Homo sapiens: one gene and its partners. The protein of the gene in region 1 purifies or fractionates together with the protein of each later gene. This does not show direct contact. Each region holds a gene or a part of one and is shown in the gene's direction. Other genes may lie near its edges.

Region 1 (7,957 bases):
AATGATTGCCATTCTAACTGGCATGAGATGGTATCTCATTGTGGTTTTGATTTGCATTTCTCTAATGACCAGTGATGATCGGCTTTTTTTGATATGCTTGTTGGTTGTATAAATGTCTTCTTTTGTGAAGTGTCTGTTCATATCCTTCGACCGCTTTTTGATGGGGTTTTTTTTTCTTGTAAATTGGTTTAAGTTCCTTGTAGATTCAGGATATTAGCCCTTTGTCAGATGGATAGATTGCAAAATTTTTCTCCCATTCTGTAAGTTGCCTGTTCAGTCTGATGATAGTTTCTTTTGCTGTGCAGAAGCTGTTTAGTTTAATTAGATCCCATTTCTCAATTTTGGCTTTTGGTTGTCATTGCTTTTGGTGTTTTAGTTATGAAGTCTTTGCCCATGCCTATTTCCTGAATGGTATTGCCTAGGTTTTTTTCTAGAGTTTTCATGGTTTTAGGTCTTATGTTTAAGTCTTTAATCCATCTTGAGTTAATTTTTGTATAAGGTGTAAGGAAGGGGTCCAGATTCAGTTTTCTACATATGGCTAGCCAGTTTTCCCAACACCATTTATTACATAGGAAATCCTTGCCCCATTTCTTGTTTTTGTCAGGTTTGTCAAAGGTCAGATGGTTGTAGATGTGTGGCATAATTTCTGAGGCCTCTGTTCAGTTCCATTGGTCTATATATCTGTTTGGGTACAAGTACCATGCTGTTTTTGTTACTGTAGCCTTGTAGTATAATTTGAAGTCAGGTAGCATGATGCCTCCAGCTTTGTTCTTTTTGCTTAGGATTGTCTTGGATATACAGGCTATTTTTTAGCTCCGTATGAACTTTAAAGTAGTTTTTTCCTATTCTGTGAAGAAAGTCAATGGTAGCTTGATGTGGATAGCATTCAATCTATAAATTACCTTCAGCAGTACGGCCATTTTCACAATATTGATTCTTCCTATCCATGAGCATGGAATGATTTTCCATTTGTTTGTGTCCTCTCTTATTTACTTGAGCAGTGGTTTGTAGTTCTCCTTGAAGAGGTCTTTCCCATCCCTTGTAAGTTGTATTCCTAGGTATTTTATTCTTTTTGTAGCAATTGTGAATGGGAGTTTACAATTTGGCTCTCTGTTTTTCCATTATTGGTGTATAGGAATGCTTGTGATTTTTGCATATTGATTTTGTAACCTGAGACTTTTCTGAAGTTGCTTATCAGCTTAAGGAGTTTTTGGACTGAGATGATGGGGTTTTCTAAATATACAATCATGTCATCTGCAAACAGAGACAATTTGACTTTCTCTCTTCCTATTTGAATACCCTGTATTTCTTTCTCTTGCTTGATTGCCCTGGCCAGAACTTCCAATACTATGTTGAATAGGAGTGGTGAGAGAGGGCATCCTTATCTTGTGCCAGTTTTCAAAGGGAATGCTTCCAGCTTTTGCCCATTCAGTATGATATTGGCTGTCGGTTTGTCATAAATAACTTTTATTATTTTGAGATACGTTCCATCAATAACTAGTTCATCAAGAATTTTTGGCATGAAGTGCTGTTGAATTTTATTGATGTAATCATGTGGTTTTTGTCATTGGTTCTGTTTATGTGATGGATTATGTTTATTGATTTGTGTATGTTGGACCAGCCTTGCATCCCAGGGATGAAGCCGACTTGATCATGGTGGATAAGCTTTTTGATGTACTACTGGACTCAGTTTGCCAGTACTTTATTGAGGATATTTGCCATCGATGTTCATCAGAGATATTGGCCTGAAATTTTTTTGGTTGTTGTGTCTCTGCCACATCCTGGTATCAGGATGATGCTGGCCTCATAAAATGAGTTATGGAGGAGTCCCTCTTTTTCTATTGTTTGGAATAGTTTCAGAAGGAATGATACCAGGCCCTCTTTGTACCTCTGGTAGAGTTCGGCTGTGAACTCATCTGGTCCTGGGTGTTTTTGGTGGGTAGGCTATTAATTACTGCCTCAATTTCAAAACCTGTTATTGGTCTATTCAGGAATTCTGCTTCTTCCTGGTTTAGTCTTGGGAGGATATACGTGTCCAGGAATTTATCCATTTCTCCTAGAATGTCTAGTTTATTTGTGTAGAGGTGTTGATAGTATTCTCTGATGGTAGTTTGTATTTCTGTGGGCTCAGTGGTTATCTCCCCTTTATCATTTTTTATTGTGTCTATTGATTCTTCTCTCTTTTCTTCTTTATTAGTCTGGCTAGTGGTCTATCTATTTTGTTAATCTTTTCAAAAAACCAGCTCCTGGATTCATTGATTTTTTGAAGGGTTTTTTGTGTCTCTATCTCCTTCAGTTCTGCTCTGATCTTAGTTTTTTCTTGTCTTCTGCTAGCTTTTGAATTTGTTTGCTCTTGCTTCTCTAGTTCTTTTAATTGTGATGTTATGGTTTTGATTTTAGATCTTTCCTGCTTTCTCCTGTGGGCATTTAGTGCTATAAATTTCCCTCTGAACATAGATTTAGCTGTGTCCCAGAGATTCTGGTAGGTTGTGTCTTTGTTCTCATTGGTTTCAAAGAACTTATTTATTTCTGCCTTAATTTCATTATTTACCCAGTAGTAATGCATGAGCAGGTTGTTCAGTTTCCATGTAGTTGTGCAGTTTTGAGTGAGTTTCTTAATCCCGAGTTCTAATTTGATTGCACTGTGATCTAAGAGACTGTTTGTTATGATTTCTGTTCTTTTGCATTTTCTGAGGAGTGTTTTGCTTCCAATTATGTGGTCAATTTTAGAATAAGTGCAATGTGGTGCTGAGAAGAATATATATTCTGTTGATTTGGGTTGGAGAGTTCTATACATGTGTATTAGGTTTGCTTGGTCCAGAACTGAGTTCAAGTCCTGAATTTCCTTGTGAATTTTCTGTCTCGTTGATCTGTCTAATATTGACAATGGAGTGTTAAAGTCTCCCACTATTATTGTATGGGAGCCTAAGTCTCTTTGTAGGTCTCTAAGAACTTGCTTTATGGGTGCTCCTGTATTGGGCGCATATATATTTAGGATGGTTAGCTCTTCTTGTTACATTGATCCCTTTACCATTATATAATGCCCTTCTTTGTCTTTTTTGATCTCTGTTGATTTAAAGTCTGTTTTTATCAGAGACTAGATTGCAACCCCTGATTTTTTTTGCTTTCCATATGCTTGGTAAATATTCCTCTATCCCTTTATTTTGAGCCTATATGTCTTTACACGTGAAATGGGTCTTCTGAATGCAGCACACTGATGGGTCTTGACTGTTTATCCAATTTGCCAGTCTGTGTCTTTTAATTGGGGCATTTAGCCCATTTACATTTAAGATTAATATTGTTATGTGTGAACTTGATCCTGTCATTATGATGCTAGCTGTTTATTTTGCCTACTAGTTGATGCAGTTTCTTTATAGTGTCAATTGTCCTGACAATTGGGTATGTTTGTGCAGTGGCTGGTACCGGTTTTTTCTTTCCATATTTAGTGCTTCCTTCAGGAGCTCTTGTAAGGCAGGCCTGGTGGTGACAAAATCTCTCAGCATTTGCTTGTCTGTAAAGGATTTTATTTCTCTTTCACTTATGAAGCTTAGTTTGGCTGGATATGAAATTCTGGATTGAAAATTCTTTCCTTTAGGAATGTTGAGTTTTGGTCCCCACTGTCTTCTGGTTTGTTGGGTCTCTAAAGAGAGGTCTGCTGTTAGTCTGATGAACTTCTTTTCGTGTGTAACAGGACCTTTCTCTCTGGCTGCCCTTAACATTTTTCCTTCATTTCAACGTTGGTGAATCTGATGATTATGTGTCTTGGAGTTGCTTTTCTCGAGGAGTATCTTTATGGTGTTCTCTGTGTTTCCTGAATTTGAATGTTGGCCTGTCTTGCTAGGCTGGGGAAGTTCTCCTGAATAATATCCTGAAGAGGGTTTTTGGCATTTTTTAAAAAATTATACTTTAAGAGATCTGGGATACATGTACTGTCGTATACTTTTAAACAATCAAATCTCATGAGAAATCACTCACAATTGGGAGGGCAGTGCCAAGCCATTCATGAGGGATCCATGCCCATGACCCAAACACCTCCCACCATGCTTCATCTCCAACACTGGGGATTATATTTGACCATGATATATGGAGGGGACAAACATACAAACTACGTCAAAGGCAAAGCATGGCTACTGTGAAAGAAGGGTAAAAACACAGAGATGGCATCACCTCTGACTTCCAGGAGTCCTCAGCAGACTGAGGGAGACAAGTACATATTTTCCTGAAAGAGGTCACTGGAGTGATGGTGTGTTTAGAATATAGAAGTAGAGCAGTCACAGAGAGGCAGCCCAGCAGAGTGTTCGCACAAGGACTGGGCCAGCAACTCCCCACTGCATGCAACGTATCTGAGGAAAGTCATTAAAATAGGTGATGGTCACTTTCCATCAAGTCCCTGGTATGGTCCATGGAGGCAGGGTTGTCAATCTCATTTTGGCATTTCAGAGGCCTCTCAGGGTTTGGATATGGAAGAAGACAACCAGCAATGATTATGCATTGCAGAGATGCAGGTGAGCCCCAGTTTCTTGCCAGTTGGGAGGTCAGTGCTAAGAGCCTTGCTGTCTTTCCCTGGAACATGAGATGCCAATTTCTTTCTGGACAGAGAGTATTTGGTTGGCTAAAGTCAAAATCTAAATTTTGCTTTGGGATAAATTCCAAAAATATTAGCATTATTCAAATTTACTTTCACTTTATCTTTCCGAATCTTCAAGGTCCAAAAGCATTGCTGAATAATTCTGTTTCTAAACTCACTTGCAGCGTGCTCTCCCTCCAAGGCGAAGACCATAATCTACTCTTGTCTGGAAATCATACAAGTAGGTATCTCAGCAAATGATACTCGTGTGTTATCGTTCTTATGAGTAAATCATTGGCAGTGAGTGTGATTTTTTTTTTTTTATGAAAGGATAAATACACGCCCTCTATTGGGGTCAGGTTTTGTGCCTGTACTTCTTCCGCCTACTGTATCATAGCAGCTTAGAATCCCAGCTGCTGGCTCGGGCTGCAGTTCTCTCATGGCTCGCGCAGGGTGGACCAGCCCCGTTCCTTTATGTGTGTGTCTACTGCTGACCTGTGGCTTTGCCGAGGCAGGGAAGCTGCTGGTAGTGCCCATGGATGGGAGTCACTGGTTCACCATGCAGTCGGTGGTGGAGAAACTTATCCTCAGGGGGCATGAGGTGGTTGTAGTCATGCCAGAGGTGAGTTGGCAACTGGAAAGATCACTGAATTGCACAGTGAAGACTTACTCAACCTCGTACACTCTGGAAGATCAGAACCGGGAATTCATGGTTTTCGCCCATGCTCAATGGAAAGCACAGGCACAAAGTATATTTTCTCTATTAATGAGTTCATCCAGTGGTTTTCTTGACTTATTTTTTTCGCATTGCAGGAGTTTGTTTAATGACCGAAAATTAGTAGAATACTTAAAGGAGAGTTCTTTTGATGCAGTGTTTCTGGATCCTTTTGATACCTGTGGCTTAATTGTTGCTAAATATTTCTCCCTCCCCTCTGTGGTCTTCACCAGGGGAATATTTTGCCACCATCTTGAAGAAGGTGCACAGTGCCCTGCTCCTCTTTCCTATGTCCCCAATGATCTCTTAGGGTTCTCAGATGCCATGACTTTCAAGGAGAGAGTATGGAACCACATCGTGCACTTGGAGGACCATTTATTTTGCCAGTATCTTTTTAGAAATGCCCTAGAAATAGCCTCTGAAATTCTCCAAACCCCTGTCACGGCATATGATCTCTACAGTCACACATCAATTTGGTTGTTGCGAACGGACTTTGTTTTGGACTATCCCAAACCCGTGATGCCCAACATGATCTTCATTGGTGGTATCAACTGTCATCAGGGAAAGCCATTGCCTATGGTAAGTCACCTCTCCTTTAGCACATTAAGAATAATCTGGCTTTGGAAATTAAAAAAGGATTCCTTACTGAACTGTGATTTGACATTTTCGTTTGTTGCATTTCAAATTTCTTTCCAGTTTAACAAATTATTTTGTGCGAATTCATGTACTCATCAATTATCAAATTTTATAAAACTGCCCTTCTTGAAAGTATATGTAATAATTTAAAAATTATAGATCATATTCAGGCTACATTTTAAAATACGATGTTTAGAAAAGTACCAAAAACCACAGCAAGAAATGAAACTTCCGTTTTTTGTTAATTCTATGTGACCCCGTAGTTGAAATGCTCTTAAGTTTTGTGTACATTCTTTTCATTGAAAAAAAGTATTTTAGGCATATGCAATATCTCATGTAAGTTCCCATACCTATTTAGTAAAAATAAAATCTAGTATTGGGCTGAACATATTCTTCTTTATCTTGCATTTTTCACTTGCCAATAAATTATGGGTACCTTTATAGAGCAATACAGACAGATTTGACAAGTTCTTTTAATAATTGCATAAAATTCTTTACTTTGGATACAATGTAGTTTTTTAACCAATTAATATTGATATATATATAGCCATTTTCCACTCTTTCCTTTTGTGAATAAGGCTGTGTAAACACTCTTCAATACTTTCCTTGCGTGAATATATTTCTATATTCTTGCTTTTATCTTAGTAGACTAGAGTCCTACACGTAGGGTTACAGGGTTTTCCTGAATTGAGAAGACTGGCATCTTTTTGCTATTAAGTCTTCCTGTTCAGGAACATATATGTCTCACTATTTATTCAGATCTTGTTTTATATACATAAATAAAAATTTTCACTATATAAGCATTTTATGTTTGTTTTTAACATTTATTCCTTGGCATTTTATTACTTTAGAAACTATTTTGTACAGGGCAATGTTTCCATTTCTACATTTAACTGATTACTGGTAATTAAAATTTTGGTTTTTGCATATGTATCTTGTATCCAGCCACATCACTAACTTTTCTTATTATTTTGTAGTATGCATTAGATGTACAATATACAATACCATCTGCAAGTAATTCCCTTGTCTGATATTTGTACTGCTTCTTTTGCTTTGCTGGAGCATATACTTCCAAAATATTATTGAGTAATATTGTTAGAGTAGCCAGTTTAAATAGGGATTCGGTTGCTTGTGACTGAAAAATCCTTGAAAAATACCAGAATAAGATTCTTGGCAAACGCATAGTTGCTAAATCCAGATGAAACACCTGGTGTCTCATCTCATTATATTATTTTATTAGGGGTGGAGTACACATTTTTATGTATTGTTCTGGTTTCTTACAAGATTCAGTAGACTTTGTAACACAGTTATATCTGTCATTGGCAGATGGTTGGTGAAAGAGTGACCGTTCAGCCATCTCATAGGAAAGTGAAATAATGCTCTTTCTAAAAAGCAGGAAGACTACAGTTGTAGGCCTTTCAAAATTAGGCATGACTTTCAGCTCATGGCAAGACCAGGCGAGGAGATGCAAGTTGCAGGACTCTAAGAGGTTGGACTTATCAAAGCACTTTTCTCCTCGTTATCCTCCATTAATTACAGTACCAAGCACCACCCATGTGTTGCCTACACCCCACAGCCTTCGGCCGAGTTGAGGATCTGCCACTTCCTGAACCCACGCTGAGTTTATTGTGGCTCACAGGGTCACCTAGAGGCCTTTAAAGATATAAAAACCTATATATGATTTTATATCACCTGTGATAGAGGGATATCTATAAAAAATGAAACATTAAACTATATATGGTTTCATTTATTTTGATTGTAAATATCTTTTATGAGATATGAAATAAATGTGTTTCTATATCTATTAAAGAATATACACATGTATGAAAGTTTTTATAGTTTGCAGAGGGTTATGTATATTAATGTATATTTTTATGATTATACCTGTAAAGGCAGCAGAATTCTCACAGAGGAATTCGATCTCAAAGAGGGCTTTCTGTCAAAGAGCCTTGGATATGGCCCAACCACAAAAGTAAAAGTAAATTGTCATCAAAAGAACGATGAACACTGCATATTGCTCTTTCCTTGTTTCAGATGCC
Region 2 (7,340 bases), on another chromosome or scaffold:
TCCTCCCTGGTCTGCCTATAATGCCTCTTGTCACAGTCAGAGGCACCGCCTGGCCACCTGGATGCTGCGCAGACCCTCTCCTTATCTGACTGTAATCCTGGTCAGCCCCCTCCTCCCAGTCTGTGGTCCTGACCCTACTGGGCCACATCTGCCTCTCTTTGCTAGGCCTCAGGGCTAGCCCTGGAGGTTACTGTCATCCCCTGCCTTTGGGTCCAGCTGCCCCTTTACCCAGGTCACTCAGGATTCTCTACCCTAATCATCCCTAGTTTTCACGATCTCTCTCCTGCATGCAAATGTTTCTGGGAAATGAGTTGCCTCCTTTCTAGATTTCTGACCCTTCTCCCTGCTTGCACTTCAGTTTGCTGGGAACTTTTTTCAGGCCTAACTCCTATTTATCCTGCTGTGAGGACAATTTCATTTGGGGCAAATCAGAGCCTGGCCTTCTCAGACTTGAAAAGGGCTGGGCCCCTGAACCCAGAGAGAAAAGAAAGCAGCACTCTTCTCTGTACCAAGGATCAGGCCAGACTGGGGGGCAACCTGCCTGAGTCTGTGCTCTGTGCTAAGTGGAATCCTGAAGGCTCAGGGTGGCCAGGAGACAGAACTCTCTTGCCCCAGCTGCTCCCAGCCCCTCTCTTCTACTCTCAGACTTCCCTGCATTCCGTAGAAGTCCTGAATTCATTGCTGCCCCTATGCGGAGTAGCAGAGATCCAGGTGTCTAGCCCCACCTGGGTTTAATTTCTACATGCGTTCCAGCCAACAAACTCTCTGACCCAGCAGATACAATAACACTGCCCAGGGTGAGGTTCTTCTCCAAATGCTGAATTTGGCCAGAGAATCTCCATGGTCCCGGTTAGGGGTGAGGGTGGGGGCTTAATCACTCTCCCACACTTCCCATCCCCAGTCAACCTTTCCCTCTCCAGCGGCTGGGCTGGGTGGTCACTCCTTCTCCCTGCTAGCCTCAAGAAGTAATGGAAAGGGGAGGGGGTTCTCCTCTCCCCAAGTCCTAGACGCCTCAGTTATATACACATCTACACCCACTCACACTCTTCACCATCCAGGAGCCCTCTCCTGCCCATCTCTATTCCTTCAGGTGTAAGACCAGCCACCTTCCTTTTAGCCACACCACCATGGAACAAAGTCCCAGAATGTTGCTCTCCTAAGTCTCTCGAGCTTGTTTCCTCCTCACTCCACCCCTACCTATCCCACCTCTGCCCCCCCAGCTTTTCTCATCAACTTTGCACCCTCCCCTCACTGAGTCTCCAGATTCCTGGGGGGGCCCCAAGAGGGTTATGACCAAAGCTCCTGCAAAGGGTCACCCTGGGCAGATCTGTAGCAGATTAGGTCATAATTAAAAGGCCAGAGGCACTGGGAAATTCCTTCTCCTTATTGATCCCAGCGGGAAATTAAAGCCAGTTGTTTGTGACTGAGTGGCTGATGAAGGCTGCAGCTCCTCCCCATTGCCTGGTTCCAGGGTCCTAGCCCCTGCTCCTTGCCTCTAGGCATCTCCATCCTCCTTGGTTAGTCCCCTTCCCCAGGCCCCTCCACTCTCTCATCTCCTACCCCTCCACCTCCCCGAGTCCCCTTCCCTAGCATCTTCCCTAAGAACCCTCCGTGCCTGCTGCTCCCTGGGGTAACAGGGCTGCTAGAGGCTGAGACCTCGGCCTCAGCTATTCAGCACCCTGCTTAGACCCCCTACCCACCTCCCTCAGCCAGGGTTAGGGTGCTGGGGCTGGAGCTGGAGCTCAGGCCCAGAGCTGCCAAACCGCAAATGCTCACATCTGGAAAGAATTCCTCTCCCAGCCCGACTTCCCTTTGTCTTACTTCTGTCTCTTTGGAAATCATGGCCAGTTGGCTGGTGGAGGGAGTGGGGAAGTGAGGAGAGGGGAGTGGGCCCAGGTCTCCCTGCCCCCACCCCAGGGAGCCCCACTGCCTGGCTCCAGCCTCCCCAGCAGCCTCAGCCAAGCCATCCAGCCTGTGCTCCCCTGCTCTAGCATCGAGGGGCCAATCACCCCCTCCTATGACTGTCCCTGCATCCTGGTGACCATCTTTTGGGTGAGGTTTTAACATCTTTAGTCACTCACAAGGCTAGGGGGGAGAGTGCACTGATCCTTTTGTCGTGCAGGAGGAGGGATGCTTATTGAGCAGGAGGCTGGGCGCTTCCAGCTGGGGGCTCAAGAGGGCTGGTGGCATGGAGATGGACGAAATGACCTGGGTGGGGGAGGCAGGGGGCAGTGAAGGGAAGGAGGGGCAGCAGGAATCTGGTTTCCACCATGTTCCCTCCTCTAGCCTCTCCTCATCCCTTTGGCCAGGAGCCTGATTTCACTGTCAGAGCCTAATCCCCCTCCTTTACCTACAGCATTGCTGAGCAGGGAGGATGGGGGAGGAGCTGGGGCTGTGCCTGCAACCCCAGGCCCTAAGCACTTCCCAGGGAACCCCCCACCCCGCCCCACCCCGCTTCCTTCCACCATCTCTGCTTTTGTCTGTCCTTCCTCAGAGAGCTCCTTGACCTGCTGCCCTCTTCCTTGCAGAAGCCCAGGCCTCCCAAACACCCCCAAGTAAGCTCTCCCACACAAAACCTGGACCCCTAAACCCAGGCTGAAGTATTCAAATCTCAGTTTGTTGGCTATTGCGGGCGGGGCCCCATAGAGAAGTCCTATGCAGTGGAATCTCCATCCCTCCTGCTGCCCAGTCAGCCCAGCTGCTTTATTTTCTCACCCACCCATTTCTGCAGATTTCCCTCTCTGCAACCCGGAGGCCCGACCCCCCAGTACATTCTCCAGCCTTCAGTTCTTAATGCTGAGGTCACTCTGGCCCCTCTCCTTTGGTCATCTTCCTCCAGACTCTTCCCCAGCTCCCACCAAAGCTCCCAACTCCCTAGATCGCCCCTAGGTTCTAAACATAAGGGCTCAGAGATCTGAGAGCGACTGCCTGCTCCACCCTTGGCCACGCTGGCGAGGAGGGGCCAGGGCAGGGACCCAGGGCTGGGACCAGATGTAGGGTTTTTCTTTCCGCCTCAGAAGGAGCTGGGAGGGAGAGTCTGGGGAGGGTGGGGGATGGGATGCGGCGGGGCCACGTGCATCGGTTCGCTCAGGGCCACCGGGCCGAAGGCCCCCCCGCGTTGGACAGGCCGGGACGGTTCCTTTGGCTCCAATCACTGCATCCCGCCAGGCTTCGCTCCTCTGCGGTTTCCGGCCTCGGGTCCCAGGCCTGTCCCCGAGGCTCCCCGCCTGACCTCCGTTTCTGTTTCTCCGTCTCCCTGCCATCTCCACTGGGGTCTCGCCCACTCCCACTCGGGTCTCTGCAGGAAGCCGTGCCCTCCTCCCACCCTCTTTGATCTCCCGTTTCAAAGCCGCTCTCCAAGGGAGGGGAGGTCGCTCCTTCCGCCCGTTTTACAGCTCAGGATGGTGACACCTGAGACCCTGCTCCGCCTTCTCCCCCGGCACCCATCCTCCCGCCTATCTAGGTGGTGGCGCAGCTCGCCAGGGCTCCGCGCCTCTGTCCCCGCCTCCCTCCCTTCCCCCTACTGAGACCCCCTCGGGGTCTCGGGAGTGAAGCGACAGAGAAAGCGTTTTAATAAAGACCTTGCGTCAAGTGATTGGCTGTGACCTCTGCCCTCCCAGCCTCGCGCCCTGGGCTCCTGCTTAACCCTTCAATGTCCGCCCAGCGCATTAAGGGGAGCGAGTCGCCTGGCGACTACTTCCAGAGTCCCCAGGCATTACGTGAGCCCGAAGCAGGGTGGAGGGGTGGGGGGACCGTGCCGCCCCCGCCCAGCCTCTCCGAGTTGTTCCAGCAGGGGGCGCCGTTGCCTCACTTAGATCCCTAACCCCCGGAACCCCGCAGCTCCCAAGCCCCTCTCTGAGTACGGAGTGGTCCCACTGGATCCAGTTCAGGGTTCAATGGAGCTAGGGCCAGCTACGGCTCAAGATCTGGGGTCCGCCTGCGGGTGGGGTCGCCAGGTGTCCGGCACCAAGGAGTTGAATGCACCGAGTCAGGTTGGGGATGGGTGGGGAACAGGCGAGACGTGAGGAACTCGGGTGGGGGACAGCCATACACGAGCCCTGAGCATCTGCGCCCGCAGCTAGCTCCCCCCGCCTCTGCGGAGAGCGCGATTCAAGTGCTGGCTTTGCGTCCGCTTCCCCATCCACTTACTAGCGCAGGAGAAGGCTATCTCGGTCCCCAGAGAAGCCTGGACCCACACGCGGGCTAGATCCAGAGGTTGGTGGCGGGGGCGCAGGGCCCCCCAGGTGGGGGGGGGCGGAGCGGGAGGCGGGGCCACTTCAATCCTGGGCAGGGGCGGTTCCGTACAGGGTATAAAAGCTGTCCGCGCGGGAGCCCAGGCCAGCTTTGGGGTTGTCCCTGGACTTGTCTTGGTTCCAGAACCTGACGACCCGGCGACGGCGACGTCTCTTTTGACTAAAAGACAGTGTCCAGTGCTCCAGCCTAGGAGTCTACGGGGACCGCCTCCCGCGCCGCCACCATGCCCAACTTCTCTGGCAACTGGAAAATCATCCGATCGGAAAACTTCGAGGAATTGCTCAAAGTGCTGGGTAAGGAAATGTTCGAGGGCCCAGGTGGGGCAAGGGGGGGCTCTGGAGTCCTCGAAGTTGGGGATGAGAAAGACAGCGGGACCACAATCAGGGCGTGAGACACTGGGTGCCTGCATCCCCGAAAAACGTGCCAGGCGTCCGGGTCCCGGGGCTCTGGGCACGACGCCTAAATCCCGCTTTCTCCTGCGGGGGCCCACCGGTGCCAACACTGCGGTGACTCACGGCCTGTGAATCACGTAGAAACCAGAAGCGCGAGGTTGGCCTCTGGGGGAAGGGGAGGCTGGCCTCAGCGGCCGGACTCGGCGGGCCGAGGCACCTGGCTCTCTGCAGTTCAGAAGCTGCGGGCTGGTGGAGCCACGAACCCTGCATCCAGACTGGGAGCCCGGTTCCCTACCCTGCCCAGCCGCTCGGAGACATTCCAATCTCCTTCCCGGTGCCCCCCTCGGTAACCCAATCCCCAGGGCAGGCTCATTACCCCTCGGCGCCCAGCTCTGCCTGCGAGGTGATCTGCTGCCCCAGCGCCCCCTGAGCCCCACTTTCCTCCCCCTCTGCACTTTCCACTCTGCTCTCCCCACCCCCCATCTGTGAGACAAGTATTTTCATACAGCGAGCAGCTCCAGAGTTCTAAAATCGCTAGGGATAATTATCACTTTCTTGGATTTCAACAAATGGTTTCGTGTGAAACCCCAATCCCACATTTCCAAAAATCTAGGTTCCCACCTACCTCCCCCGACCATAGATCGGCTGCAGCCCAATTGGGTGTGTTGGTCAAAGGTGGGGAAAACTAAGTCAATCCAGACTGCCTTTCCCACTTTTCCAGCCCACCTTCTGTGTGCCCTCTGGGCCAACTGGGCTAGACATCTGGGGCAGGGGAGAGTGCCAGGACCTGGTGACTGGGAGAGGACTCTGGGGGAGAGATGGACGTTAGTTAAGGACCCCAGCCACTGGGAGCGTAAGGGCAGGCCTGCTGCCTTCAATTCCTGCACTCAACAGAGAGACGGTAGTTCGGCTGGGTTGGGCGAGAGGGGAGGGAGGGAAGGCACCCCTCTCCCTGGACTATAGGAGTGAGTCTGGATCTAAGACAGGTCTGGAATGCTGCAGAGAGAGCAGGGATCTCCATCAGTCCTTGCCGTTAGTTCTTCCTGCGATCTAACCACAATACTTCTTGGAGTCATATCAGTCTTTCTTGCTCTGTCCTTGCTAAACTTAAAGACAAAAAGAAATTTTCTCTTTGGAAAGCCTAGATGCCACTCCCTCCTCATCTTCTCTGGATTCTGGCCCCTGTCCTCAGTGGATGAGGTGGTGGTCTGGTACACCCCCAGGCCCCAGCTGAAGAGTAAGATTCAAGGCCCCAATCCTGCTGTCTGTCTTCAGTCTGTTTGTCCTCCCTGCAGGGTCTCTCTGAGCCACGTGCCCTCCTCAGGCCCTGCAGGGGGCAGATTAAAAACAGATCCATTAGACAAACACAGTCCTGAGCCAGCTAAGGCCGGCTAAGCTGGGCCCTCAGCTCCACAGGCACCAGGGGCTCGCTGAAAGGATGTCTCCTCTGAACCCAGCCTTGCCTCTGCAGGAACTTCGGTCCTGGCACACCCCTCTTAGCTCTAGTCAAGGGTCCATCTCAATAAGACTTGGGGACCTGTCATTTCTTCCTAGACACAAGAGTTCAGCAGCCAACAATGGGGGTCCTGGGCTCCCCAGGGGCAAGGCTTCCTCTCTCCCTCTCTCTTCTGTTTGCAGTAGGGTAGGTATGCTTTGGCACTGAGGGGAAAGAGGATTTGTTTCTCTAGGAACCCAGGTCTGGAGGAGGTCCAGGGAGTTGGCCAGATCAGGGGCAGGGAAATCCTGCTACCTGGCAGAGGGCCCTTTCACCCCCGCCTAGTGCATCCCTGGCTCTACTCCAGGACAGGGCGGCAGATCAGGCCAGGTGAGGTGGGTGTGTGGAGCTTAGACCTGGAGCCCATCCAGAGAGGCCCCCTGCTCTGCACGTCTTCCTTTCAGAGGGGTGCTGTCTCCTATCTCCCCCACTTCGGTTAATAACTGGGGAGCAGAGAGAAGGGGTCCAATCTGGGCTGGGATATGGAGGTGCACAGAGAGTCTGAATCCACGAGGCTGAATGAGATAGCCGGACCCTGTGAGGGGAGTGGGGGGTCCTGAAGAAGGGGATACATCACACAGAGCGGGGAGGGCAGTCTCCTTTTCTATTCCTTCTTCTCACAGCAGAGGGGGTTCCCTTGAGGGGACAGGGGTATGGGAGTCTTCCAGAAGGGCAGATGAGTACGGTGCCTAATGCAGAGAGCTTTGAGCCCCAGCTTTTTGCTTTCCTTTTTTTTTTTTTTTTTTTTTTTAGTGGTAGGGTCTCACTGTGTTGCCCAATCTAGTCTCAAACTTCTGGGCTTAAGCAGTCCTGCTGCCTCGGCCTCCCAAAGTGCTGGGATTACAGGCATGAGCCATGGCACCTGACCCTTTGCCTTCCTTTTATCAGTAAAAATAATACCAACAATCATAGCTATTGTTTCCTGAAAACTTAAGCATATGCCTGGCACTGTGTGTGCTAAGTCCTAAACACATACCATCCCAATTGGCTTTTTTTTTTTTTTTTTTTTTGAGACAGAGTTTTGCTCTTGTTGCCCAGGCTGGAGTGCAATGGCACAATCTTGGCTCACCACAACCTCCGTCTCCTGGATTCAAGTGATTCTCCCGCCTCAGCCTCCCGAGCAGCTGGGAGTAGAGGCATGTGCCACCATGCCTGGCTAATTTTTTATTTTAAGTGGAGATGAGGTTTCTCCACGTTGG
Region 3 (7,316 bases), on another chromosome or scaffold:
TTTGCAACCTACTCATCTGACGAAGGGCTAATATCCAGAATCTACAATGAACTCAAACAAATTTACAAGAAAAAAACAAACAACCCCATCAAAAAGTGGGCAAAGGATATGAACAGACACTTCTCAAAAGATGACATTTATGCAGCCAAAAGACACATGAAAAAATGCTCATCACTGGCCATCAGAGAAATGCAAATCAAAACTACAATGAGATACCATCTCACACCAGTTAGAATGGCGATCATTAAAAAGTCAGGAAACAACAGATGCTGGGGAGGATGTGGAGAAATAGGAACAGTTTTACACTGTTGGTGGGACTGTAAACTAGTTCAACCATTGTGGAAGACAGTGTGGCGATTCCTCAAGGATCTAGAACTAGAAATACCATTATATGACCCAGCCATCATATTACTGGGTATATACCCAAGGGATTATAAATCATGCTGCTATAAAGACACATGCACACGTATGTTTATTGCAGCACTATTCACAATAGCAAAGACTTGGAACCAACCCAAATGTCCATCAATGATAGACTGGATTAAGAAAATGTGGCACATATACACCATGGAATACTATGCAGCCATAAAAAAGGATGAGTTCATGTCCTTTGTAGGGACACGGATGAAGCTGGAAACCATCATTCTCAGCAGACTATCGCAAGGATAGAAAACCAAACATCACATGTTCTCACTCATAGGTGGGAATTGAACAATGAGAACACCTGGACACAAGAAGGGGAACATCACACATCAGGGCCTGTCGTGAGGTTGGGGCAGCGGGGAGAGATAGCATTAGGAGATATACCTAATGTAAATGACGAGTTAATGGGTGCAGCACACCAACATGGCACATGTATACATATGTAACAAGACTGCACGCTGTGCACATGTACCCTAGAACTGAAAGTATAATAATAATTTTTGTAAAAACGTTAATTATCTAATACAGATTATATAATTAATTTAATAAAGAACCTCAATACAAAAAAAGAAATTTATATGTATTCTCTATGGTCAGGCACAAATTTATGAATGCACGTGTATATAAATAAATTTAAGTGTGTCCTTCAAATATTTTGTATCAGGAATCAGCAAATTATGGTCTTAAAGCCAAATCCAGCTGGCCAACCAATTCTGGAGATTAGTGTTTACTAGAAACAGCTGTCTTCATCCACGGGGCCCTTATGTCCAGGGCTGCTTCTGGGCTGTGGCAGCATCTGCCCGCCCTGCTCTGCACCATTACTGGTGTTTTGTTATCTGACGACTCTGTTGAGTTCCTGGGCAGACTCTGCCAGAAACTGCCAAGTGATATAAATTTGTCAGTTTTCATTAATTTATTTCAATGTTTGCTTTGTATAATTCAATATTATGTTCTTGTGTATATAAGGATAAGACTATTGCCAGGTGCAGTGGCTCACAACTGTAATCCCAGCACTTTGGGAGGCCGAGATGAGTGGATCGCTTGAGGTCAGGAGTTCGAGACCAGCCCGGCCAACATGATGAAACCCCATTTCTATTAAAAATACAAAAATTAGCTGGATATAGTGGCAGGCGCCTATAATCCCAGCTACTCAGAAGGCCGAGGCAGGAGAATCGCTTGAACCTAGGAGGAGGAGATTGCAGCGAGCCAAGATGACACCACTGCACTCTAACCTGGGCTGCAAGAGCAAAAGTGTGTCTCATAAAAAAGAAAAAACAAGAAAGAAAAAAAAGATAAGACTATTGCATCTTGGTGACTTGCACACTAATCAATAGGAAATATTCTTCTTTTTCATTTAATCCCTTTTCTTAGAATTCTTTGTTGTCTTGTATTAATATTGTTGTCCCTGATTCCTTTTGTATTGCATTTCTTCTGTTCCTTTTTTTTATAAACAGTGATGATATGTAACTCAAAATGAATCATAGACCTACATGCAAAACATAATATTACAAAACTCCTAGATGGTAGCATAAGAGGAAATTTGATCATCTTGGTTTTGGTGATGACTTTTTAGATGCAACACCAAGGCACAATCCATGAAAGAAATAATTCATAAGCTGGACTTCTTTAAAATTTAACATTTCTGCTTTGTGAAAGATATTGTCAAGAGAATGAAAAGATAAGCCACAGACTGGGAGAAAATATTTACAAAAGACATATCAGACTTTGTATGTTATCCAAAACGTACAAAGAACTCTTAAAACTCAGAGATAAGAACACAAACCAAACAATTAGAAAATGGGCCAAAGACCTTAACAGACATCTCATCAAAGAAGATACAGAAGGTGACAAATAAGCATATCAGCTGATGCTCCACATCATATGTCCTCAAGGAAATGCAAATTAAAACAACAATGAGATACCAGTACACACTTATGAGAATGCCCAAAATCTGGAACACTGACAGCACCAAATGCTAAAGAAGGATGTGGAGCAACAGGAACTCTCATTCATTGATGGCAGGAACACAAAATAGTACAGCCACTTGGGAAGACAGTTTGGTGCTTTCTTAAAAAACTAAACATACTCTTACCATAGGATCCAGAAATCACACTCTTCGGGATTTACCCAAAAGAACTGAAAGCTTATGTCCACACAAAAACCTGCATACACATGTATATGAACACATTGCACAGTGGTGAAGTCCGGGCTTTTAATGCAGCCATCCTAAATAACACGCATTGTACCCACTAAGAAATGTCTCCTCCTTCACCCACCACCTGACCTCCTGCTCTTCACTGTCTCCAGTGTCTATGATTCTACTCTCTCTCTACCTCCATCTGTATGCATGATGTACCTCCCACTTACACATGAGGGTGCACAGTGTTTGACTTTCTTTTTCTGAGTAATTTCACTTAAGATAATAGCCTCCAGTTCCATCCATGTTGCTGCAAAAGTCATCATTTCATTCTTTTTATGGTTGAGTAGTATTCGTCTGTGTGTGTGTGTATGTGTGCGTTTGTGTGTGTGTTTGTGTGTGTGTGCGTGTGTGTGTGTGTGTGTATCTTTTGCCGCTAAAAGTAATATTGCCGTCATATGGGAAACTGGGAGAGGGAGAAACAGGTCCCCCTGGTTACATAAGAACTGACAGAGAAGGAAGTTGAAGAAAGATGATGGGTGGAGAAAATAGGTCCCACCTAGGGAGACATCACATCAGCTCTATGGAGCCCCAGAGTGCTTAAAGGGCTGGCACTAAATGAACCAGGACCTCTTGCGGCCTACAAGGAACATTGTAAGGGGGTAGCAGAAAAAGTCCATTTCAGTGATTCATCATCTCCTTTTCCTCACCATGCCCCAGGGACTCCTGTGCCTTCCCAACCCTCTTGCCCCTACCTGGTTCAGGCTTTCCACAGCAGGTTAGGGCACATTATAGCCAAGGGCACAACTCCCAACTCCTACACAGGCTGTTTTGCATAGGAGGAGGAAAAACACTGAAGACTTTCTGGGAAGTTAGTGCCATGGGGCAGGAAAGAACTTTTCCCACTCCCTACCTCCAGGCTCATTCCATGGGGCGGGGGGGGCGGGGGTCACTCCACCACTCAACCTAGATAGTGAGGCCCCTGACCCCAGTCCCCCCACCTAAATCCAGGGCTTCTGTGAGGGGCTGACCAATGGTTAGCAATGAAGTAATCCTGCTTCCCTCCCTGGACTTTGAGTTCCCATAGGGCAGACCCTGATGCAACCCAAGACCTATAGCACAGGGGATAAGAGTAAGGATTTGATTCAGGCTTTTCTTTGTTCGTGTGATGATTTGTTGTGTTTACTAGCTGAGTAAACTTGGGAACATCTCAACTTCTCCTTTCCTAAAATAGAGATTGCAGCACCTGCTTCTTAAGACTATGAGGGGAGGGTTGAGGAGGATGCAAGAGCAGCAGGTGTCTTGATGTCTAGACATTAAAACGCTCAGTAAGCGGTGGGGGTCATAGAACAGGCTGTCACAACAAATGTGTGGAAGTACTGGGGGAGGGAATAAACAAGACCATGCTGCCTTTGGGAGTCTGAAACTCCATTCTCTTTGGGTCCAGAGGCCCAGTGCTCTTTTCTCCCATTTCCTGACCTGTTACTACACATGTACCGCTGCCTTACCCTCAAATCAAGATTGAGCCAGAGAAGGCCCCAGGTGAGGTCTCTGGGGTGGGGTGGGACCTGGTGACCTGGGACCCTGGCCAGAAATCCTGAGCACAGCCTCCTGGGTGTGTCCCACACACCTGATATGGGACAAGCCTCCAAGAAACAGATGACAGAGGTGGCCCCAGGCCTCCCAACCCGTGGGAAGAGCCAGGCTGAGCCTTATAAAGGACTGCTCTTTGTCCAAACACACACATCTCACTCATCCTTCTACTCGTGACACTTCCCAGTTCTGGTAAGTCTCACCTGCCTCTTTGCATTTTCTAGAAGTGCCCAGTGCCCAGCCTGCCATGCTGCCTGTAGGAAGGGAAAGGGCTGTGGACAAAGTCTCAGAAGCCTGGGTCTAGGCCAGCTCTGCCATTAGCTGGGCTGTGTGACCTTCACTTGACCCCAAAAGCCCACGTCTGTACAACCAGGTGGCTGAACCAGACCTGTCCATTGCTCCTTTGGGATCTCCTGAGACAACTCCTGTGGAAATGTCCCCAGTGGGACCTGAGCACAGGACCCTCCCTTTCCTTCCTGTCTTCTTCCTCCCTGGATTCATTCTCCTTTTGGGATCCCAGTTGCTGAATCCCCTCCCCAGCTCTGCCCCCACAGAGGGAGGAGGGATAAGGATCCCCTGTGAATGCTTTGGAGGCTCTCCAAACCCCCAGGCCTTGGACCTGTAAATTCTCAGTCAATCTCTGGGCACAGGGCTTGGCCTCTGGCCTTGGCCTTGGCCTCAGATTCAGAAAGCTTTGAGTGGCTTCTCTTAGTCAGTTGCTGGCACGGAGCTTTCTCCTGCGTTGAGAGGTGTTGGGGGTTTATTGTCAGATGCCCACATGCGTTAGCCAAGGTCCTTTTCTGGTTCTTTGGAAAGTGTAGAAATGAGAGCTGCACTGTCTTATTTTTCAGGCTTGGGGTGCAGGGCAGCCCAGGCTGGCTACTGGCTGGAAGATCTGCTTTGGAAAGTCAGACATTTTTATTTAAACAGGGTCAACCCTTGGTGATTCAGAGGGTGCAGATATTTCCCAAGAGCAGACATGAAGCGACTCCCACCTCACTCCCACCCCATCCAGCAGCTTAAGAACCAGGGAGTTATTTCTGTTCCTTGTAACAGAGGCAATTCTTGTTTCTCATTCCCAAGGGAATGTAGGAAGGGCCCCCTGTCCTCGGGAGAGGGCTGTGTTTCCTGCTCACACTCATGTCCACGCTCACATGTGCACCTGGAGCCTGCACGCACTGTGTCATGCAGGGCTTGCACTTGAGTCAAGGTGGGGCCCACGGTGTCTGGTTCCTGAAGCAGCCGAGGAGGGTCAGACACCAGATCACCAAGGCCATTGTCCTGCCCCCGTGACTCTCACCCCGACTGTGAAGCTGGAGGAGATGGATTTGGTGCTGTTTCAAGAGTGGGGTCCGCCATGTGCTGGTTGAGGCTGGGGGGTCCCAGCTTAGTTCTTCTATGTGTTGCTGGCCTCCGACTCTCCCTGCTTCTCCTTCTCTGAAGCACTGTCCACAGCTGGACTTCTGCCATCCACCTGCATCTCTTCTTGGCCCTGGCCAGGATGGGCCGGGTCTCAGACTTGGTCCTACCCTCTCATTTTTGAACAACTTATCCCATCACATTTAAAAAAATCAAGTTCCTTCTGCTCCATCTTAGGGCTGTTTTTACTCTGTCCTCAGCCCTCCTTCTAACACCCCCACATAGAGACCTTAATTCAAACTAAGGTAAGAAATGATTGTCTTTATTTCCTGAAGGCTTTTTGAAAGCAAAGATGAGCAACACTCAAGCTGAGAGGTCCATAATAGGCATGATCGACATGTTTCACAAATACACCGGACGTGATGGCAAGATTGAGAAGCCAAGCCTGCTGACGATGATGAAGGAGAACTTCCCCAATTTCCTCAGTGCCTGTGTGAGTTGGGGTCTAGCTTCTCAATGTTGGTTGGACCCTGGCATGGCTGAGGATACATTTTGCTATGTGGCCTTGGACAGGTCACCCTCATCCTCTGATTAAAAAGTTTCCCATTTGCAAATAGGGCTTTATTGCTTGGATCATATGTGAATCTAAGGATGGTAGGCGAAAAAGTATGAAAATGGGAAAGAGTTATACAGATATAAAGGAGGTTATTAGATGGTCAGCAAAGTGTGCAGCTTGAGGACAGTGCACAGTCCCCTCCCAGCGCTCACTGACCCTCTCTCTGTGAGACTGAAACTCACATGCTCAGGTCCTGCTTCCCAAAGGCCCCACATCAACATCCCTGAGATTACTGGGAAAGCACTAGAAGTTCCATTGCTAGTAGAAATCAATAGCCCTCTTTGCAATAAAGAAAACTCATTGGCAAATCTGAAAAAACCTGTGGGCTACTAGGTACCAAAGGGTCTAGATGACCAAGAGTAGGGAACCCAGAAGATGAGTTTGGTGGAAAAGGAGAAGAAAGGAGAGGAGGTCAGAGAAAGAAGAGAACAAAGCATGAGGGCCAATTTTGAGGCCCTGGGGTAGAACTAAGGTAGGCAGTGCCCTTAAATGCTGGGAACAGGCAAGATTGAGGCTGGGGCAGGGGACTGCTCTCCCCAAGGTCACTTAACAGAGTGCCTCGGGACAGGACCTGCCTCCCATCCTGAGGTGTGAGACAAAAAGTCTCCTTAGAGAACTCCAGGGATAACACTCACGTCCTCACCCCAACTTCACCCACTCACCCTGTGCTCTCAGCCCCACGACCATGCCTGTGCAGATCTAGGTACTTGTCTGTATCTCTGCCTCCTCCTCTCCCCTCCCAGCCCAAAACTTGTTTGTGATTGAATTTTTCTATTTTGTATGTTTTTCTCTTCACAGGACAAAAAGGGCATACATTACCTCGCCACTGTCTTTGAGAAAAAGGACAAGAATGAGGATAAGAAGATTGATTTTTCTGAGTTTCTGTCCTTGCTGGGAGACATAGCCGCAGACTACCACAAGCAGAGCCATGGAGCGGCGCCCTGTTCTGGGGGAAGCCAGTGATCCAGCCCCACCAAGGGGCCTCCAGAGACCCCAGGAACAATAAGTGTCTCCTCCCACCAGACACTTGCCTTATTTCTTCTTCTCTTTGGTGACCTACATTGTCAAAACTACCAATTCCAGGTTAACTTTGTTGGAGAATTTCCCCCACCCCCATCCAGTGGGTCACCCAGGAGTAATGTCCCTCCAGCAACGTTCCCCCTATGGCCTCCAGCAGAGCTGATCTGC
Region 4 (7,900 bases), on another chromosome or scaffold:
GCAACCTCTGCCTCCCTGGTTAGAGCGATTCTTCTGCCCCTCAGCCTCCCGAGTAGCTGGGATTATAATTGCCTGCCACCACGCCCGGCTGATTTTTGTATATTTAGTAGACACAGAGTTACACCATATTGGCCAGGCTTATCTTGAACTCCTGACCTTCTGATCCACCTGCCTCGGCATCCCAAAGTGCTGGCATTACAGGCGTGAGCCACCATGCCTGGCCCTATTTTTATTTTTTTGTAATCTTAGTAGAGACAGGGTTTCACCATTTTACTCAGGCAGGTCTTGAACTCCTCACCTCAAATGATCTGCTCCCCCTCAATCTTCTAAATTGCTGGGATTACAGGCATGAGCCACCGCACCTAGCCTAGGGTATATATTTAAACATAGAATTGCTAAAATAACTAGATATGGCCAAGTTTTTCCAAAATAGTTGTACCAGTAAACATTTGCAACAGCATTTTTGTCATTTTTATTTGTCCACATCTCACTAATCCTATGTATTTAAGAATAGTTAGTATCATTTACAATAACAAAGACATGGAACCAACACAAATGCCCATCAATGACAGACTAGATAAAGAAAATGTGGAGCTCTCAGGCTCCGCCTAATTTATTGGTTTATAAGCTCTTTGTTCCTAAGGCAGATGAGAGCAGGAGGAAGGGATGAGGAAAAGGATTAATCAGTGAAAGAGAACTCATGAGTCATTCAATAAGATGTAGAGCAGTAGCGGTTTCTGGGAATTTCTTTGAGCAAAGGCATGTGTCTAAACTACGTAAGATCTTTAACTTATAGGGACTGAAATGGGCGGGAGCGGGTTTCAGGAGGAGCCAAGACGTTTGATTATACTCCCCTGCTTCAAGGGACTGTTATCTCCCTGAGCAACCTGTGGAATACCGCTGAGCTGTTATGCTCTCGGGGCATAAAGACATGAAGGCATAAGGAGACTTTTCTCCTCAGAGGCTGCCCATGGCTACGCATGGGTGTCTCACACAGGGGAGACCAACTCAACTGGCACCCCAGAAACTCTCTTTCCCACAAGAAGTACATGGTATACTTGCATAGCCAAAGAAATTAAAATAGGCCATTGAAGACAGAGAAAAACAATGGCTAGAAAAGGCAGTAGGAATAAAAGAGAAGATCATGCTTCCTGGCTTCATGGCATGAGAATGGGGGAGTGAGTAGACATCCATGAGAAAAGATCAAGGAGCATGCAGCCATCGGGGAAAATCCATAGTGCAGATAAAGCAAGGAGGAAGAAGAAGGACAGTTCTAGTAAAAGGGAGAACATCAATATAGGATGTTTCTTAGCAATAGAAAAAGAAGGCCAAGAGGAATTAGGGAGAGAGTTATAAGAGATCAGCAAGGGGACAGGGTTAGATTTGGTTTGGTTTGAAAGCATACAGTAAATATGATGTCTGTCCCTGGCAGTGTTGGCAGAGTAGGAAGGAGGAAGGGAGGCAAGAGATAATATCATTTTCTCTGTGCTCCAACTGTACTTACATATGAGACTATTTCCCTCTCTGCTTTTCAAACCTTACTGGAGTTGTTTTCCCTCATGAAAACCAAGAAAGGAAAGCTAGTTAGTCTTGTTCTGAGGTTGTTCAATGTATACATATCTATATCTGTAGACAGAATCCTTGGGAATACAGTAATTGACATATATTCTGTTATTTGATGCTTGAAAAATCTCCTCCACTAACCAGTTTCCCTATAGATTGCCACAAGCACATAATAAGAAACAATAAATAAAATGTTCTCTTGACTTTGTTACTTAACAATGCTGAGAAAACTTTACAGCCTTCATAAGGAAGTGAGGTCCAGGAAAATCTAGGAGATATTTCTTAACCAATCTATAAAGGCATTAGTAATGACAGGATATTTCCTGAAAGTGTAATTTCCCATTGAGGATTTGTTTTTAATTTCTGGATTCCTGGAGCCAATGAAGTTGGTGTATGTTTATGAAATATCAAGAGACATAAGTTGGCAAGTGTTCATATGCAAAAACTTCTTGGAATTTCTGAGTTCTCTGTGGCAATATATGACATCAGGATATGTCCAGTCTCACACACCAGGATATGTCCTTTCTAGCCTGTCTATCACATGCTAGGAGAACTATTTAGGAACAGAAAAAAATGCCTGAAATGATTTCTCATTTGAACTCATCCAAGCTTTCTCTAAATTTAAGCAAACTCCTGGTCATTTTCAGTTAGTACCTTTCCTTAAGTTCAACCTTCAGGGCAAACCTCCGTGCCTCAGGACGTTTAGCCATAGTCTGAAATTCTCTTCCATAGATTGGTCCCCTGTAACCCCGGTTTGTCTCAGCTTGTTATCCTGTTTTTTTCTTCCCTCCATTCCCAGGATGAGCTTGTTGCTTCTGTCCTATGAGACATTAGATTCCTTTTCTTTGGTACCCGAGTAAATCCATCCTACTCCAATAGAGGAAGGTCCATTTTTGTCTTATAGCGCTGGATGCAGACTCAGCTGAGAAGACCATTATTCATTTTTGGAATTCTTTATCTCAGATATTTCCTCTTCTTTCTTTTTCTTCTATCTTTGGATTTTTAGTCCATCAACGCCCCATTAGTCTATTCCCCGACTTCAATCAGGGAACTTATACCTCTTAAACTCATTCAGAGACTCAAAACATATATATTGATACAGGAGACCTAAGAAGAGCATGTCTTGGGGGTTGAGGAAACAGGCAGGTGAGAAATTTCCAGATTGGAAACACAGCTTCCTTTCTCCCATCCAGCCCCTACTTTCAGCCTATGTGTTTCTGGCACCTTGTTGTAGATAAATCTCCCTTGACTTTGTGATGTGCTGAGAAAACAAACTCACGGCTGGTGTTAAAAAGGGCCCATGACAATACCAAGTGTTGGGGAGAATGTGGAGAAATCAGAACTCTATTCACGGTCGGTTGGAATGCACACTTGTGCAGAATTCTATGGAGAAGAGTCTGGCATTTCCTCAAAATGTTAACCTGGATTTACCATATGACCCAGCGATTTCATTCATAGGTTTATACTCAAAAGAAATGAAGAAATATGCCATGCAAAAAAATGTACATGAAAGGTCACAACATCATTATTCATAATAGTAAAAGGATGGAAACAACACAAATGTCCATCAACTTATGATTAAAGAAAATCTGGTCTATTCATAGAATGGAATATTATTCGACCACAAAAAGGAATGATGTACTGATCCATGCAATGATGTGGACAAACCATGAAAATAACACTAGATTAAAGAAGCCAGTCACAAAAGGACTTACTGTATGATTCCATTTACCTGAAATGTTTGGAATAGGCAAATCCATAGAAACAGGAGGTAGATTCCTGGTTTCCAGGGTCTCCAGGAAGGGAAGAATGAAGTACAAGATTTCTTTTGGAGGTAGTGAAATTGTTGTGGAATGAGATCATGATGATGATAGCACAACTTTGTGAATATAATAAAATCATTGAATTGTACAGTTGAATTTATGGTATATAAATTATATGTTAATAAAAAGGGGGTCCACAAAACAAACAGCCCCCCACTCTGGTTGTCAGGGAGATATTGGATTAAATGGCCTTGGACAACAACCCCTCTCCCTGGCCACAGACATTCTTCAGATTACAAGATATTCCAGGGGAAACACTGGAATGAGTCTGAAGCCAGGTGCTAAACAGAAGGACCATTGAGAAATGTTGTGATCCTGACAGGTCAAGCAATTTATTTTTCGGCTTCATTTTTAAATGTAAAATTAGAAAGCTGCCATTTAAAATGGCCCGTCTGTTTCAATTGCTCTTCTCAGTGTCAGCCTGTTAACTCAATGTGTTAGTCTGTTTTCATGCTGCTGATAAAAACATACCTGAGACTGGCAAGAAAAAGAGGTTTAATTGGGCTTAGAGTTCCACGTGATTGGGGAGGCCTCAGAATCACAGTAGGAGGCAAAAGTTATTCTTACATGGTGGCTGCAAGAGAAGATGAGGAAGAAGCAAAAGAAGAAACCCCTGATAAACCCATCGGATCTCCTGAGGCTTATTAACTATCATGAGAATAGCACAAGAAAGACCGGCCCCCATGATTCAATTACCTCTACCTGGGTCCCTCCAATAACATGTGGAAATTCTGGTAGATACAATTCAAGTTGAGATTTGGGTGGGAACACAGCCAAACCATATCACTCAGCAAGGCAGATAACTTTCTCACTGAGCCTATGCAACAGAAAACCATCTGGGATGGTTGTAAGGGGCACAGGAAGTGACTGGTAGGATCACTGCCAAAGCTGAGCACTCAGGAGAAGGCAATAGAATCCTATTCTCCATAGTATGCTATAAGATACTGAAGTACACTTCTTCACTATCTCTTTGGACTTAGAATTAGCACTACATTCCTTGTTATACAGAAAAATTACTAAGGAAATTCATAGGATGACAAAAACTTTCAGAACTGAAAAACAGGAAATGTAAGCTTTTTAGTTCTTTGGTATTCGAAGTATGCCTAAAAGACAATGCAAAATCCAAGAAAAGAATGGTGGGGTTTTTGTTTGTTTGTTTTTGTTTTTGTTTTACAGCTGGAGTAGAATACAAAGGGATGGAGTTGAAACAAATGAGAGGAAATTGGAATTCTAAACTTATTCTCATTGGCATTAGAAAGGCACCTACATGTATTTCACATGAGCCGGTGACTGCTGACTTGCATTCTTATTTTTTCCCTATAGATTAAAAAGGAGGTACAATGGTAGAACTGTAATCCTGTCCTTTGTCATAAATTTTCATATTCATAAAGGTGAGTGTTAGCCCGCTTGTGAAATCTGAAGTTGAGTAACTTCAAATACTAACCACAGAGGGAAAGGCAGCAAGAGGAGAGGCATAAATTTAGGATCTCACCCTTCATTCCACAGACACACACAGCCTCTCTGCCCACCTCTGCTTCCTCTAGGAACACAGGTAAGAGCTTCAAGCCTCTCCAGCTTAATAACATGAATTATTTTTGAGAATAATAATGATACTGTGTTCTATATCATGCATCTCCTGCATTCTGTCTGATTATATTTTACTTATTCTGCCAGAGCAAAATTAAAATACCTATTTCATCTGATTTGTCCTTTATCTAAATTGCTTAGTTCCAAGTAAACCAAGGCACTTTTAGGAACACAGAGGGAGAGTGCCTTGCAGCCAGAGAGTCTTGAAGGAGATGTCAGGGACGCATCTTAACAGCTGGTTGGATGTGATCCACAGAGGTCTCCTGTTAGCATTCATTGTAAAGCCATCCTACCTAGCTCTAGTGTAACCAGCAATGAAAGAAAGATAAAGAGGGTCGATTACTTATTTACAATAGTCTTTAAAAACGTAGTTTTGTAAGCCTTCTAATTAGGACATTAATATATTTAATATATGCACATTGTAGAAAGATTGAAGCGTTAAAAATAAGAGAAAAACTTTAAATGTCAAAATCTCACAACCCAGATATATCATTTCTTTAAGAAAATTGTACTACAAAATACCATTCCATTTATTAAAGTCATTCTGACAGGAATCTGATGCTTTTCCAGGAGTTCCAGATCACATCGAGTTCACCATGAATTCACTCAGTGAAGCCAACACCAAGTTCATGTTCGATCTGTTCCAACAGTTCAGAAAATCAAAAGAGAACAACATCTTCTATTCCCCTATCAGCATCACATCAGCATTAGGGATGGTCCTCTTAGGAGCCAAAGACAACACTGCACAACAAATTAGCAAGGTAGCTATCAGCATCATTACGTTGTCCTGTTGCAGTTTTTCTCTGGTTCCGTCGGCTAGCACGCAGATGGTAATAGATGTGGTGGTCTGATGGGTAGCACAGGGGGCTGTGCAGGAATTCCCATAACTGTGAGACCACTGACTTAAACAGATCTTTTGAGTAAAGTTTTCTTGTCCCGCTTCATGTCTCTTCCAGGTTCTTCACTTTGATCAAGTCACAGAGAACACCACAGAAAAAGCTGCAACATATCATGTGAGTCACAGAGCACTATGGTTCAGCTTTAGATCCCTGAACAGGTCATAGTTTAAACCTGGAACTTCACAAAAACTAAGAAAAGGCCAGTTTTAGGGAAAATCTTGGACACAAAGATTGAGACATACAGAGTGGGTTGGCATTTCATGGCACATAATTATTATTCCTCATTTCTGCGTTACTAAAAGACAGTCAGCACTGTACCTCAGAGCATAGGTCTGGATCAGGATAGGCTGGGTTCAGACTCCAGCTTTGCTCTTCACAAATGATGAATAAGAGCAGGACACAACTGCTCGGAGTCCCAGTGACCTCATCCCAGAAAACTAAGGGTAAGAAAAAATCTGACTCAATACATGCAAATACATGCAAATGTTTACAACAGTGCCTTGCCCATAAAAGTCATAATAAATGTTATTATTATTATAAAGTAGCTATAATTATACTAATCATAATAATGTGAAAATAATTTAATTTTCATTGAGTCATTAATGAGATTCAGAGGAATAAGCACAAGTCCAAGTATATTTTGGAAAATGATTGCTATGGAATATATTGGTTTAGAGCCTTAATAGTGCAAAATGCTTTGCTGGAAGGTAGAAAGTTCTAGATTTAAACAGGCTTAGGTTCAAAACTTGGCACTTCTAATTTATGTCTCTATAAACAGGGTTTTTTTCCCCATTCTCTGAGCTTTCTTGTGTTCATCTGAATTGAACTAAAGACTTAGAGTTACCCATGTAAAGTCCTTAGCCATGGACCTGGCATACACTCTTCTTACGTGCAGAGAATGACCATCATGAGGAAAGAGCCACAGATCAGTCAATGTGTCCTACAAGATAATAGCACCAACAGGTATAACAGGGCTTCCTGGCATAATCTATTTAAAATATCCAACCTTCAACATACTCGTATCCTTGATGACTGTTAGAAGTGAAATATGGTCCTTGCCCATAAGGAGCTGAGAGTTTAACTGGGAAGCTAAACCTAACCCTTTAAACCAACAAGGAGAAAATCTACTGGTAGACAGCGCTGCATCTTTAGTTCAGAAGAGAAAAGATTGCAGTACGTTAGAGCAAGAAGAATTTTCTGGAAGAAGTCAAATATAAGGTGGATTTTGAAGGGTATTTGAGGTGAAATACACCAATTATCAGGGAATAACATCAAAGGTCCTCAATGAGACTACCAGCATTTAGGGACTGATCTAACAGACTTAGCATGGGTTTAGTATTTACATTGATACAGCAATTGAATGATCTCCCTTTTTGATGTTTGAAGGTTGATAGGTCAGGAAATGTTCATCACCAGTTTCAAAAGCTTCTGACTGAATTCAACAAATCCACTGATGCATATGAGCTGAAGATCGCCAACAAGCTCTTCGGAGAAAAGACGTATCAATTTTTACAGGTAATTTCACCTGGCCTACCCACATTTCATTTGCATCCTGATGTCTGTGTCTCTGAGTGGCCAAATGGAAGAAAGCAAGGCAGATGAGCCTGGCCGACTCAGGTGGAGAGCATTTACTCAGAGTGCATTAGCTCCATTTCCACAACTCTCCCCCACTGGAGTGTCCCAGACCCCAACGATACATCACTGAAGTGTGGATTTAGGGATAATCTTGTGATAAAAGAGGAGGTTGTGTAATAGAGTGAGTAAGAGTAATAAGTAATAAGATACCATCGATAAACTGGCACTGACTCAGTCACATACGATACATCTTGGTGGGAAATGTATGACTAATGGGATATTATTGGAATGGGCAGGCTTGGGTGAGTTCCTGAGAATAGTTGAGGAAGTACCAGGAAATATTGAATGCACAGGATGAAAGACAAAAACAAAGATCAGAAACATCATGGTTAAAATTACTGGAGAGAAGTCTGAGAAGCAATGAATCTCCTTCAGGGAAGCCTGCTCTGCAGT

The links.
Region 2: the proteins of UGT1A10 (region 1) and CRABP2 purify together in Homo sapiens (affinity purification with mass spectrometry; 3 studies listed by BioGRID and IntAct, with this or other methods). This does not show direct contact.
Region 3: the proteins of UGT1A10 (region 1) and S100A7A purify together in Homo sapiens (affinity purification with mass spectrometry; 3 studies listed by BioGRID and IntAct, with this or other methods). This does not show direct contact.
Region 4: the proteins of UGT1A10 (region 1) and SERPINB4 purify together in Homo sapiens (affinity purification with mass spectrometry; 3 studies listed by BioGRID and IntAct, with this or other methods). This does not show direct contact.

What each region holds. Positions count from the first base shown.
Region 1 is NC_000002.12:233,631,517-233,639,473, forward strand, and holds the start of UGT1A10 (UDP-glucuronosyltransferase 1A10 precursor), read left to right. Parts: upstream 1-4,931; 5' UTR 4,932-5,006; coding exon 5,007-5,861; intron 5,862-7,957.
Region 2 is NC_000001.11:156,702,584-156,709,923, reverse strand, and holds the start of CRABP2 (cellular retinoic acid-binding protein 2), read left to right. Parts: upstream 1-4,340; 5' UTR 4,341-4,477; coding exon 4,478-4,547; intron 4,548-7,340. UniProt on the Homo sapiens protein: Transports retinoic acid to the nucleus. Regulates the access of retinoic acid to the nuclear retinoic acid receptors.
Region 3 is NC_000001.11:153,412,219-153,419,534, forward strand, and holds the start of S100A7A (protein S100-A7A), read left to right. Parts: upstream 1-4,301; 5' UTR 4,302-4,345; intron 4,346-5,847; 5' UTR 5,848-5,864; coding exon 5,865-6,005; intron 6,006-6,926; coding exon 6,927-7,091; 3' UTR 7,092-7,316.
Region 4 is NC_000018.10:63,641,247-63,649,146, reverse strand, and holds the start of SERPINB4 (serpin B4), read left to right. Parts: upstream 1-4,890; 5' UTR 4,891-4,938; intron 4,939-5,524; exon of another isoform or gene 5,525-5,543; 5' UTR 5,544-5,569; coding exon 5,570-5,734; intron 5,735-5,929; coding exon 5,930-5,986; intron 5,987-7,258; coding exon 7,259-7,387; intron 7,388-7,900. UniProt on the Homo sapiens protein: May act as a protease inhibitor to modulate the host immune response against tumor cells.